Linked DNA regions of Homo sapiens. The protein of the gene in region 3 purifies or fractionates together with the protein of the main gene of each other region. This does not show direct contact. Each region holds a gene or a part of one and is shown on either strand. Other genes may lie near its edges.

Region 1 (3,500 bases), on a different chromosome or scaffold from region 3:
CATAGTTTGTAGTTTTTGTTGTTTCTAAACAGGAATAACCATTTATTAAATATTTAGTATATGCTAGGAACTTGGAAACTCTGCTAAGCACTTCATATGTTATTTTGCTTAATTCTTCTAGAATCCCTTGGAGGTATATATTTTCTCTAGATGCTGTATAGAAAAATATGGCTCAAAGAAGTTAATTTGTGCCAGGTCACAAAGCTAATAACATGACTACTAAGTGGGAGGTAGAGATTTTAATCAAATCCTACAGGGCTCTTAAGTTCACATTTGTTCCCCTAAGCCATACCACCCTCCAGAAGGGAGAAATTAAGACTTTCCCAGGCCAGACGCAGTGGCTCATGCCCTGTCAGCCCAGCACTTTGGGAGGCCAAGGAGCTTGGGACAACCCTGGGCAACATAATGAGACCCTGTTTCTACAAAAATCTTTTACAACTTTTTTTTTTTTTTTTTTGGTGGGGTACAGAGTCTTGCTGTGTCACCCAGGCTGGAGTTCAATGGCACCATCTCAGCTCACTGCAACCTCCGCCTCCTGGGTTCAAGGGATTCTCCTTCCTCAGCCTCCTGAGTAGCTAGGATTACAGGCGCCCACCACCATGCCCAGCTAATTTTTGTATTTTTAGTAGAGATGGGGTTTCACGATGTTGGACACAATGGTCTCAAACTCCTGACCTCGCGATCCACCCACCTCGGCCTCCCAAAGTGCTGGGATTACAGGCATGAGTGACCGTGCCCGGCATACAAAATTTTTAATTACAAGAAAAAAAAAAAAAGACTCAGCTGGGCACAGTGGCTCACACCTGTAATCCCAGCACTTTAGGAGGCTCTGATGGATAGATTATTTGAGCCCAGGAGTTTGAGACCAGCCTGGGCAACATGGTGAAACCCCATCTCTACTGAAAATACAAAAATTAACTGGGTGTGGTGGTGCATACCGGTAGTCCCAGCTACTTGGAAGTTCACCTGAACCTTAGGAGGTTGAGGCTGCACTGAACCATGATCGGGCCACTGCACTCTAGTCTGGGCAACAGAGTGAGACCCTGTCTCAAAAATAAAAATAAAAATTCTTTAAAAGACCTACCCAGACAAACAAAAACCAAGTGAGTTGATCACTACTAGACCTGCCCTACAGGAAATGCTAAAGGAAGTCTTTCAAGTTAAAGTGAAAACACTAGACAGCAACACAAAAATATTGCTCTCTGGTAAAGGTAAATATATAGACAAATACAGACTTCCGTAGTATTGTAATGTTGACATATAAATCACTTTAGGCCAGGCACGGTGGCTCAAGCCTGTAATCCCAGGACTTGGGGAGGCCGAGGCAAGCAGATCATTTGAGGTCAGGAGTTCAAGACCATCCTGGCCAACATGGTGAAACCCCATCTCTACTAAAAATAAAAAAATTAGCTGGGCGTGGTGGCGCTTGCCTGTAGTCCCAGCTACTCAGGAGGCTGAGGCAGCAGAATTGCTTGAACCTGGGAGGCGGAGGTTGCAGTGAGCTGAGATGGTGCCACTGCACTCCAGCCTGGGTAACACCATGAAACTCTATCTCTAAATAAATAAATATCACTTTAAATCCTGGCATAGAATTTAAAAGACAAAAAAATACAAACTATGTTAATGGATGTATAGTATAAAAAGATGTAATTGGTAACATTAATAGCAAAATGGGGGGTCAGAGATATAAAGGAGTAGAATTTTGTATGTGATTGAGTTAAGTTGTTAGCAGTTTAAAATAGATTATGCAGTCGGGTGTGGTGGCTCATGCCTGTCATCCCAGCACTTTGGGAAGCCGAGGCTGGTGGATCACCTGAAGTCAGGATTTCAAGAGGAGCCTGGGCAACATGGTGAAACTCCGTCTCTACTAATAATACAAAAATTAGCTGGGCCTGGTGGCACGTGCCTGTAATCCCAGCTACTCCAGAGGCTAAGGCACGAGAATCGCTTGAACCCAGGAGGTGGAGGTTGCAGTGAGCCAAGATTGTGGCATTGCACTTTAGCCTGGGCGACACAGTGAGACTCCATCTCAGAAATTAAATACATACATAAATAAATAATAAAAATAGATTGTGCCTGTAATCCCAGCACTTTGGGAGGCTGAGGCGGGCGAATCACCTGAGGTCAGGATTTCAAGACCAGCCTAGCCAACATGGTGAAACCCCATCTCTACTAAAAATACAAAAATTAGCCAGGTGTGGTGGCGCGCACATATAGTCCCAGCTACTGGGGAGGCTGAGGCAGGAGAATTGCTTAAACCCAGGAGGCAGAGGTTGCAGTGAGGGAGATCGCACCACTGCACTCCAGCCTGGGCGATGGAGTGAGACTCTGCTCAAACAAAACAAAACAATACAAAACTGACAAGATGTAATGAAAGCAGTACTAAGAGAGAAGTGGATAGTTGTAAATGCTTACATTAAACAAGAAGAAAGATCTCAATTCAACATCCTAACTTTACATTTCAAGGGACTAGGAAAAGAAGAGCAAACTCAATCGAAAATTAGCAGAAAAAAGCAAGTAAAGATTAGAACATAAATAAAATAGAGAGTAGAAAAGCAATAGAAAAAAATCAACAAAACCAAGTTTTTTTGAAAAAAATCCATAAAATTGACAGAATTTTAGCAGATTAAGAAAAAAAAGAGTCGGCCGGGTGCAGTGGCTCACGCCTGTAATCCCAGCATTTTGGGAGGCCAAGGAGGACAGATCACAAGGTCAAGAGTCCAAGACCTGCCTGGCCAAAATAGTGCAACCCCATCTCTACTAAAAATACAAAAATTAGCCAGGCATGGTGGCACATGCCTATAGTCCCAGCTACTCGGGAGGCTGAGACAGGAGAATCACTTGAACCCAGGAGGTGGAGGTTGTGCTGAGGGGAGGTTGTGGTGAGCCGAGATTGCACCACTGTACTCCATCCTGGGCAACAGAGCGAGACTCTGTCTCACAAAAAAAAAAAAAAAAGAAAAGAAAAGAAAAGAAAAAAAGAGTAAAGACTCAAACTAAAGTCAGAAGTGAAAGAGGAGACATTACAACAAATGCTGCTGAAATAAAAAGGATTATATGAGACTACAATGAACACTTATACAATTGTTATACTCCAACAATCGGATAATCTAGAAAGGGATAAATACCTAGTAGCATATAACCTACTAAGACTGAATCATGAAGAAACAAAAATCTGAACAGATTTATAACTAGTAAGGAGATTGAACCAGTAATTAAACACCTCCCAATAAAGAAAAGCCTAAAACCAGATGGCTTCACTGGAGAATTCTACCAAGTGTTTCAGTCTCTTCAAAAAGTGGTCCCAGGAAAACAGGATATCCACATGCAAAAGAATGAAGTTGGACACTTACCTTACACCATATAAAAAATTCACTCAAATGGATTAAAGAACTAAATTTAAGACCTAAAACTGTAATATTGTTAGAAGAAAACATGGGAAAGCATCAAGATATTGGATTTGGCAATAATGTCTTACATACGACATCAAAAACACAGGC
Region 2 (3,500 bases), on a different chromosome or scaffold from region 3:
AGGCTAGTCTTGAACTCCTGACCTCAGGTGATCCATCTGCCTTGGCCTCCCAAAGTGCTGGGATTACAGGCGTGAGCTACCGTGCCCAGCACAGGTTTCCCCTTTCATTCTTGAACCATTTTTGCATAGACATGTGAGTGTACAGTAAAGCCGGTAGACAGGCCTGAATGAGTTGTGCTCCCAAATAGAGCAAACGGGGGCAATTCAACCCATGGTGTCTCATCTTCTGGAAATACGGGCTTGTGTTTTTTAATAGTATCGTCTTTCAAAGTGACTGTCAGGATTGAATACTTTCTGAGATTAGGGTTTTGAGAAATAATTTAAGGGGCAATAATTTCATCCATCCTCATAGCCAAAGGGCAGACTCTATGTTTAGAGAAGCAAAATTCTAGCCCATGATTCAGTGTATCAGTAAGACTCTGGAGAACGGGACTTTGTTTTGCAGTATCCAGAGCCATATCTTGTGAAGCTGGAAGCTCACCTTGCAAATGCCTGAGTTTTGGGTTTAGGAAGCCTACAGCCGCATACAGGTGCCCTAATCCTGTGAAAGCATCTTTACACAGCTGATACCAAAAAGTTGTATGTTGTAAATGTTAAAAATTAGGTAGTCTTGATTCACTTGAATCATTAAAAAAGTGATTTTTAAAATATAATTCCATTTTAAGATTGAAACAAATCAAACCCCTTAGATTAAAACCCAGATTGTTGCTTTCAACAACTATTTCAGTTGGGTTTACTGTATAGAAATAAGTACATTGTATCTTTTTTTTCTACACAGTGAAAATAAACTAAAATTTCCCTCCGGTTCAGTATTAACTGGAACGCTTTCTGTACTGAAGGTTTTAGTCCTCAATCAAACAGGAATAACGTGGGCTGAGGTAATCATATTTCTTTGTTTTATTACACATTAATAAGCAATTAAAAATGTTTGGTTTAATAGAGAATTGTTAGTACAGTTTAATAGTACAACTGTGGCTTCATTTAAATCATCCCAGTATCTATTAATAGATAACAAGATTCATTAAAGTGCCTTATAAAAACGAGTTAAAAGAGCATCATAGTTGAGTTTTGCATCTGGAAATCCATGTCCTATCTCAGCTCATTTTGACTTGTTCTGGTGCCTTTATAAACAGTGGCGCTCCGTTATGGTATGAACCAGTATGTGCTGAGCTTCAAAAAGCCGTAGTGTTGGCTATTGACTAGCTTCCTGAGTTTTCCTGTTAGTTTTTTTTAGAACAGAAGCCAAGCAGCAGAAAGGTTCTCACATACTTTTCTTGTTAGAAGTTCGGCTCTTGGAATCCACTGTTCATTTTATACAGCCGGGCTCAAAAGTAGACTTGTGGGTCCTTGGCACAGCAGCATTTGGGACTTATATCTGGCAGTACTATTTCCTGTCTGAGGTGTACTGACTTCACACACCCAGAGCATTCCACTTTCTTTTTTTTTTTTTTTGAGACGGAGTTTTACTCTTGTTGCCCAGGCTAGAGTGCAATGGTGCAACCTTGGCTCACTGCAACCTTTGCCTCCCAGGTTCAAGCGATTCTCCCACCTCAGCCTCCCAAGTAGCTGGGATTACAGGCATGTGCCATCACACCCAGCTAATTTTGCATTTTTAGTAGAGACATGGTTTCTCCATGTTGGTCAGGCTGGTCTCGAACTCCTGACCTCAAGTGATTTGCCCGCCTCGGCCTCCCAAAGTGCTGGGATTAGAGGTGTAAGCCACCGTGCCCAGCCCACTTTCATTTTTATTTATTTATTTTTCTTGAGACAGAGTCTCACTCTGTTGCCCAAGGTGGAGTGCAGTGGCGCAATCTCGGCTCACTGCAACCTCCGCCTCCCAGGTTCAAGTGATTCTTCCGCGTCAGCCTCTCAGGTAGCTGGGATTACAGGCATGTACCACCATGCCCAGCTAATTTTGTATCTTTAGTAGAGACAGAGTTTCTCCATGTTGGTCAGGCTGGTCTCGAACTCCTGACTTCAGGTGATCCACCCACCTCGGCCTGCTAAAGTCCTGGGATTACAGGCGTGAGCCACCGTGCCCAGCCCACTTTCATTTTTATTTATTTATTTTTCTTGAGACAGAGTCTCGCTCTGTTGCCCAAGTTGGAGTGCAGTGGCATGATCTCGGCTCACTGCAACCTCCGTCTCCTGGGTTCAAGCAATTCTCCAGCCTCAGCCTCCAAAGTAGCTGGGATTACAGGCGCTTGCCACCATGCCCAGCTTATTTTTGTATTTTTAGTAGGGACAGGGTTTCACCATGTTGGCCAGGATGGTCTTGAACTCCTGACCTCAAATGATCTGCCTGTCTCAGCCTCCCAAAATGCTGGGATTACAGGCGTGAGCCACTGTGCCCAGCTTGGGCATTCCACTTTCAAACCAAGGGTGTAGAAATACATTCCCAGCCATGTTCACCCAGGAAGTGCCACAGAGGCCACTCAGTGAGAGACAGGTGGGCCCCTTGTGCCCTTAATATGCCCGTGGCCATGGAGCCTCTTTCCTAGGGCCCCTCCTCTGTGAGGCGCTTACTCCCTCTCAAGGTGTAGATGTAGCTGGAAGACAAGAAGGGGCCAGACACTGGCACTGGGGCTCACACCTGCAATCCCAGCGCTTTGGGAGGCTGAGGTGGGAGGATCACTTGAGCCCAGGAGTTTGAGGCTGCAGTGAGCTAGGATTGCACCTTTGCACTCCAGCCTGGGTGACAGAGCAAGACGCATCTCACCCTCCAAATAAACTAGGAAGGGCACACAGAAATTGAAGTGGTGGAGATGGCAGTAAAGTTCCAGTGAGAAAATTTAGAAATAGTTGGTGAGGCTGGTCATGGTGGCTCTCGCCTATAATTCCAGCCAGCACTTTGAGAGGCCCAGGCAGGAGAATCACTTGAGGCCAGGAGTTCAAGACCCACCTAGGCAACATAGAGAGATCCTGTAGATGCTATATATATATTATATATTATTATACATAATTATATAATATATAATAATTTTTTGTAATTTTTTTTTTTGTAAAAAAAAAAAATTAGGCTCATGCGCAGTGTGGTGGCAGCAGGCACGGTCTCGACATGCAGAAAGACGCCAGCAAGTTCGTGGATCTGTGCGTGCTGCAGAAATGCTCCACCAGCAACTGCATCATCAGTGCCAAGGACCACACATCCATGCGGATGAACGTGGCCAAGGCCAGTGAGGTCACGGGCAGGTTTAACAGCCAGTTTAAAACCTGTGCTATCTGCAGGACTGTTTGCAGGATGGGTGAGTCAGATGATTCCATTCTCTAATTGGCCATGGCCAAGGGCGTCATCTCAACTATTTGGTTTTTGAGATGGAGTCTTGCTCTGTTGCCTAGGCTGGAGTGCAGTGGTGTGATATTGGCTCACTGCAACCTCTGCCTCCTGGGCCAAAATGATTCTCCTGCGTCAGCCTCCCAAGTAGCTGGGATTACAGACGTGCACTACCACGCCTGGCTAATTTTTTGTATTTTTAGTAGAGATGGGTTTTCACCACGTT
Region 3 (3,294 bases):
ACAGTAGGACCAGGGCCCAGCCTAGAACTGAGTCCACGTCAGTTCCAGAGGTAGAACGATGGCCTCCAACCCCCACAGTACACATTGAAATCAACCTTCTGCTTGGCCCGGACTAGCCCAGAACTTTTCCTTCTCCCAGCACCCTGAACCAGAAGGTGTGTGTCACGTCCTAAGGTCAACACCTTGGACAGACAGAGCTAGGTTCTATTCCTGGCCTGATACTTAACATCTGTGAGAGCAAGTCGGTCTCTACACCTGACTTTCCCCATTCGCAGGATGGATGGATCACTCATCTCTCAAGGCTGTTACAAAGATCAGTGCTACTCAGAGTCATTCGTGCAGTAGGTGACTTAATAAATGGTGGCTGCCTTCTCTGTCATTGTTGACCAAGGTACCTAGTCCCTTGCCTGCATACAGCATGTGAGGCATGATGCCAAGAGTGTCCTGTCCCCAAGCCACATGTTAGCAATGATGAAGAAAAGTGGTAAGGACAGGGTCAGGTGCTGAGGCGGGAGCTTTGCCTCTTTCACTTCCAACCCTGCCCTCATTTCAAAGGCCTGACCAATTTCTCACCAAACTCATAGCCATATTTCTCCCAACTGGGATTAGATGGGGATCAAGTGAGAATCTTTCAACCCCACAACCAGCTGCACAGAACAAGGTATGCCTTGAGGTCCTTATGAGTAAAATGTTTGGTCCAGCAAGACATTGCTCCAGGGAGATTAGTTGTTGGCTGGCCCTGGAGGCAGATGCCCCAGGCCTCTTCCTGCGTCTTCCTCAATTGGTAGAACCAGCCTTTCAAAAGATGAAGGGATGGTATGTAGACCCCATCACAGCTTCTCCAGCAGCAAAAGGCTGGAAGAGCAAGAGCTACTCTTACCATTTAGCTCATAAGGAGACTGAGGATTGGACAGGGTAAGGGACAAAGCAAAGTTCACCTGTAAAACTGCCAAGAAAAGCCAGGACTAAAACATCTGTCCTGACCCCAGGGAAGGGTGGACTGCATGGGGTGTTAGGGTGAGCACTGGATTTCATGTCAGAGGACTTCATCTTCATGAGTATGCAGACCATACAACCATAGTGAGATGCCATGCTTAGGGATGTATCTTTTTTTTTTGAGACAGGGTCTCACTCTGTCACCAGGCTGGAGTGCAGTGGCACAATCTCGTCTCACTGCAACCTCCACCTCCTGGGTTCAAGCAATTCTCCTGCCTCAGCTTCCCAAGTACCTGGGACTACAGGCATGCGCCACCATGCCCAGCTCATTTTTTTGTATTTTTAGTAGAGATGGGGTTTCACCATGTTGGCCAGGCTGGTCTCCAACTTCTGACCTCAAATGATCTGCCCACCTCGGCCTCCCAAAGTGCTGGGATTACAGGTGTGAGCCACCGCGCCTGGCCAGGGATGTATCATCTTATTACAAGGCCACAACGTGCAGCCTGCAGACTGCACTCAGCTTATACACATGTCCAAGTTAACCCACCCAGTTATTTTTTAAATTATAATGAGGCCAGGTGCAGTGGCCGAGGCGGGTGGATCACTTGAAATCAGGAGTTCGAGACCAGTCTGGCCAATATGGCAAAACCCCGTCTCTACTAAAAATACAAAAAAATTAGCCAAGTGTGGTGGCATCTGCCTGTAATCCTAGCTACTCAAGAGGCTGAGGTGGGAGGATTGCTTGAACCCGGCAGGTGGAGGTTGCAGTAAGCCGAGATCACGTCACTGCACTCTAGCCTGGGCAACAGAGTGAGACTCTATCTCAAAAAAATCAAAATCAAAATAAAATTTTAATGAGTTGCCTGTATTTGAAAATCATTTTGTATAGAGATCTTGGTATCTCTGGCTCTCCTGAAAGGTTAGAAGCCCTGGTCAGACGGACCTGGGTTCCTAGGTGGCAACCAGCCCTTTACCCCTTCAGCTCTTCCAGTCCTTGTTCAGCTGGCATCACTCATTTACCTGCCTAGCCCCTGTGGGTGTGTGGGTTCATGATCTCAGGAAATCCTCACAATCCTGAAGGGGGTTGCTATTACCTTCATTTCACAGATGAGAAAATGAAGACAGAGAAAGAATTTGCCTGGATTACACAGCCTGTAAGTGGTGGGGCTGAGATTCAAACTGGGGTGTGTCCCGCTCCAAGGCCCAGGCTCTCCTCACCACCTGGTCCTGCCGCTCTGCTGTGCTCCAGGGAGCCACTCCCTACTGTGGGTCTCAGTTTCTTCTTCTGTCAATGGGGAGAATGACTTCTGCACTGTAGAGGACCCCATGAGGGCCTCTAAGAGGGCAGACAGGCAAGCACTTTATAAACTCTGGCAAGCCCTGTGTGGGGATCCCAGGATTAGACACGTGACCCTTGGCTTGAGGTAGAAGAATAAACCCACCTTCTTGGGCAGGAAATGAACCCCAACGGGGTACTTGTCTGGATGGGTCCACAGCTCGATCTGCGCCATCACCTGGTTGGTGAAGGAGTTACTCATCACGAAGCTGGGGTGGCCCATGGCACAACCCAGGTTGACCAGCCGACCCTCGGCCAGCAGGATGATGCGGCGCCCATTCTTCAACCGATACCGGTCCACCTACACGCAGGCAGGGCAACAGTGAAGGCAGGCAGGGCCCCGCTCCCACAGCCCACCCTCTGATCTGGCAGGCCTCTCTGCCTCCAACAGTGCCCATGAGGAGTCCGAACTGCTCCAAAACAACCTCCAGCACATGGCTTAGCACAAAAATAACAGCCAATATTTATTAAGAAATGTTGAGCTGGCCGGGGCACGGTGGCTCACGCCTGTAATCCCAGCACTTTGGAAGGCCGAGGCAGGCGGATCATGAGGTCAGGAGATCGAGATTATCTTGGCCAACACAGTGAAAGCCCGTCTCTACTAAAAAAAAAATACAAAAAATTAGCCGGGCGTGGTAGCAGGCGCCTGTGGTCCCAGCCACTCGGGAGGCTGAGGCAGGAGAATGGCGTGAACCTGGGAGGTGGAGTTTGCAGCGAGCCGAGATCGCACCACTGCACTGCAGCCTGGGCGACGGAGCGAGACTCTGTCTCAAAAAACAAAAAACAAAAAAACAACAAAGAAATGCTGAGCTGCAGACTGCACAGTTCTGCTGTGAGAACTTCACGTGCTCACACTTGCTTGGCGCATATGAGGCACTCAGTAAGCAGCAGCTAATGTTATCGTTATGATCACTGTCATGTGCCCTGTACTAAGTCCTTTACAGGTAACTACCACATTTCATCCCAGAAACAACCCTGTGATTTCAGTACTGCTGTCATCCCCATTTCAGATTCAGAAACTG
Region 4 (3,500 bases), on a different chromosome or scaffold from region 3:
CTTAAATTTTTTTGAATATTAACAAGTTCTAATGTGAATATAGACATGCTATGAAATCTGAAAGTCATCTGTTGATAACAGTATCAATGTAATAATATAAAATCTGATACACACACACACACAGAATTGTGTAATATTGTCAGGAAAATGAGGCAGGAATTTGTTTGTGGGGTGGAACCATAAAAGTTTAGAAAATAAAAGTGAAATGTCCTAATGCAATAGACTAAGTCTTGTGCCACATCTTTGAAAATGTAATGGAGTAAACATAAAGAAGTTCTTCTTTGGACTCTTTATCTGAAACTTCTTATAGTCGTTGTATGAGATACTTTGCTTCTGTGTTTAAATCATGAACTCCGCAATTGAGTTGTCTGTACACCACATCTTGCTGACAGTCCTCCAGCACATGATTTGTTCTCAGGTGTTTATTGGGTGTTAAAGTGATGTGAGTGGGGAAGAAATAAATGATGTGTGATATCAAAGTGATATCAAGCAGAACAGAGAGAAAGAGTGAGTCAGTAATGAAGTAAACGAGCTTCACCTACACGCTGGGTACTGTCAGGCTTCAGTGGCTCTGTGGTTTTGGAGGGCAGAGAGGAGATTTCCCTCACACTGCTCCCACAACCATATTTTTAGTGTATAATTATCTGGCTAAATAGATTTCTGTTTAATTTAGCACAGGCACTAGAAAATGTGCTGCGTAGACTGGGTGTTAAGAAAACTGTCTTGATTTAGGAGTTGACAGGTAGTAACTTTAGCTTTCTTTGTTTATGATTTTACTATTTTCTAACCAGGTGCTGCTGTTGGAATTCCACTCAGTGAAGATGAGGCCAAAGTCTGCATGGTTTATGATCTCTATAAAACCCTCACACCCATCTCAGCGGCATATGCAAGAGCAAGAGGTCAGACTCATAGGGCTTTTTGATTTGGGGGAGAAAGAAAAAGCAATATTTTATCCTAAATAGAATAAAGAGGATAGAATAAAGAAAAAATATATAGATATTCTGTATAATATATAGATGAAATTAAGGACTTCTATCTCTATGTAAATATACAGTTATTCTATATAATATAGTTTGATTAAAGTAAAATACCCTTTGTTTCATTATAGGATTTCCTATTTAATTTGTTTTATTAATATTTGAGATTGATTCTGTGAGTACCTCAAAATACATTTCTTTATAAAAGTGTATGTTAGTATTTTAGGCCGGGCGCAATGTCTCACGCCTGTAGTACCAGGACTTTGGGAGGCTGAGGCGGGCAGATCACGAGGTCAGGAGATCGAGACCATCCTGGCTAACACGGTGAAACCCCGTCTCTACTAAAAATACAAAAAATTAGCTGGGCGTGGTGGGGGGTACCTGTAGTCCCAGGTACTCAGGAGGCTGAGGCAGGAGAATGGTGTGAACCCGGCAGGTGGAACTTGCAGTGAGCCAAGATAGCGCCAGTGCACTCCAGCCTGGGTGACAGAGCGATACTCCGTCTCAAAAAAAAAAAAGTATTTGTTAGTATTTTAGTGTAATAAATGGAAACACAATTGGAATTTGGTCAATGTAATTTTGCTAATTTAGGCTATTGAATGCATTTGTTATTGTTTAATATGTGACCAAAATTGAAATTACAAAAAGCTATTCTTTTTTTTTTTTTTTTTTTTTTGAGACAGCTTCTTGCTCTGTTGCCCAGGCTGGAGTGCAGTGGCGCCATCTCAGCTCACTGCAACCTCCACCTCCTGGGTTCAAGCGATTCTCCTGCCTCAGCGTCCTGAGTAGCTGGGATTACAGGTGCGTGCCACCACACCTGGCTAATTTTTTTGTATTTTTAGTAGAGACATGGTTTCACCATGTTGGCCAGGCTGGTCTTGAGCTCCTGACCTCAAGTGATTCACCTGCCTCAGCCTCCCAGAGGGCTGGGATTACAGGCGTGATTTATGGCTCTTCTAACTTTACTACATTTGGTTAGAGTCATGTTTTATCAGAGACATTTACTTGTTGAATTTAATAACCCATGAATATCCCTTTAGTATTTCTGAAAGTTCTTGAGAAACTATTACCATAGTTTATCATCTACAGCAGTGGTCAGCAACTTCAGCTGAATCCAGCCTGCCACCCTGTTTTTGTGAATATAGTATATATAAATTGGTCCTTCACAGAAAAAGTTTTCTGAGTGTCACTCTAGAGGGTAAAATTAAAGAATACTTTCTTACTGGTTACTTCAGTTAAATGACTTATTGATCTGTTAAAATCTTATGTAAACAGTAAGATTAGCTTTAGAGTAATGAATTTTATATGACAGTGGAGAATTTTATTACTTTTTCTGTATCAGGATACTTTGTGATAAATACCTCATTTTAATTTTATTTACAGGGGCTGATAGGATGTCTTCATTTGGTGATTTTGTTGCATTGTCCGATGTTTGTGATGTACCAACTGCAAAAATTATTTCCAGAGAAGTTAGTGGACATTCATGTATCTTAATCTGTGTGTTGAATAAAGCTTTATTTGTTCATAATGTTAATTGAAACCATAACCTATAATATTTATATTTATAATATCTTTTAATTAGCTAAGTTTATCATTTAATGTTCATATTTTAAATAGAACATTAATCTTAAATTGTTAATTTTGAAATGTAGTGAATTATTGTTTCAGATGGATATTTGGCTGTTATGATGTTTTTTACTTATATATTTATTTTAAATTCTTTGTTGTCTTCATGCCAAAGTTACTGTTTCTGAAGAGCAGAAGTTGTAATTTTAGGTGGTGATGCGATATAATCCATCTTACTGCATAGTGGGTAAAAAACAGAAACTACATTAATAAACTTACCCCATCAGTTGAATACCAAACAGGTATTCCAGACAGGTGGGGGTACTGTTGGTAGTAGGAAGACAGGAAGAAAAGAGAAAAAGATTAAATAGCTCAGAAAGGGGAAAAAAATAAGCAGAGGTGAAGGCTGAAGGAGCATGTGGCTTGGCACTATTTTGTTGCTTTAGGATTCTTTCCATGGCCACTGCCATCCCTGGGTTACAGGTTACAGGAGGGCTGTGACATTTGTATCTTTCGTCATGTCAAATCTCTGATTTAATCTGGTCTTGCTGTTAAGGAAAACGCCTTGCCGGAAGAGGTCATTTAACCATGTACTAGGAGAGTCAGGACTAGAATGTGCTCTTGCTCATTCAAAACACTCCCTGAAGAAATATTTCCTCCTGAGGTACATGTGTTAAGAGCAAATCAGTCATATTTTCTTAGTTTAAACTGAAACGAACAAAAACTTGGAGAGGACAGAAAGTTAGGATCTGCTATACAGAAAGCTGTATTCTAATAGATTTCTCTTTTCAAGTATAGCGTTAGCATTGTTTGTTGGAGGCAGAAACCAGAATATGCTGCCACATTATTTAAGACTGATAATTGCTGCTAGATTTTTTTAAGAGGTGTTCTCTGATTTTTAAAAATAGAAATTAAAATTTAATATTTTTGCAGGTATCTGATGGTATAATTGCCCCA

The links.
Region 1: the proteins of AHCY (region 3) and BLVRA fractionate together in Homo sapiens (co-fractionation; one large-scale study listed by BioGRID). This does not show direct contact.
Region 2: the proteins of AHCY (region 3) and TBCE fractionate together in Homo sapiens (co-fractionation; one large-scale study listed by BioGRID). This does not show direct contact.
Region 4: the proteins of AHCY (region 3) and ATIC fractionate together in Homo sapiens (co-fractionation; one large-scale study listed by BioGRID). This does not show direct contact.

Annotation. Positions count from the first base shown.
Region 1 is NC_000007.14:43,793,180-43,796,679, forward strand, and holds part of BLVRA (biliverdin reductase A), read left to right. Parts: intron 1-3,500. UniProt on the Homo sapiens protein: Reduces the gamma-methene bridge of the open tetrapyrrole, biliverdin IXalpha, to bilirubin with the concomitant oxidation of a NADH or NADPH cofactor. Does not reduce bilirubin IXbeta.
Region 2 is NC_000001.11:235,429,927-235,433,426, forward strand, and holds part of TBCE (tubulin-specific chaperone E), read left to right. Parts: intron 1-778; coding exon 779-878; intron 879-3,019; coding exon of another isoform or gene 3,020-3,172; exon of another isoform or gene 3,173-3,306; intron 3,307-3,500. UniProt on the Homo sapiens protein: Tubulin-folding protein; involved in the second step of the tubulin folding pathway and in the regulation of tubulin heterodimer dissociation.
Region 3 is NC_000020.11:34,283,062-34,286,355, forward strand, and holds part of AHCY (adenosylhomocysteinase), read right to left. Parts: intron 2,574-3,294; coding exon 2,379-2,573; intron 1-2,378. UniProt on the Homo sapiens protein: Catalyzes the hydrolysis of S-adenosyl-L-homocysteine to form adenosine and homocysteine. Binds copper ions.
Region 4 is NC_000002.12:215,332,559-215,336,058, forward strand, and holds part of ATIC (bifunctional purine biosynthesis protein ATIC), read left to right. Parts: intron 1-791; coding exon 792-899; intron 900-2,360; coding exon 2,361-2,446; intron 2,447-3,476; coding exon 3,477-3,500. UniProt on the Homo sapiens protein: Bifunctional enzyme that catalyzes the last two steps of purine biosynthesis.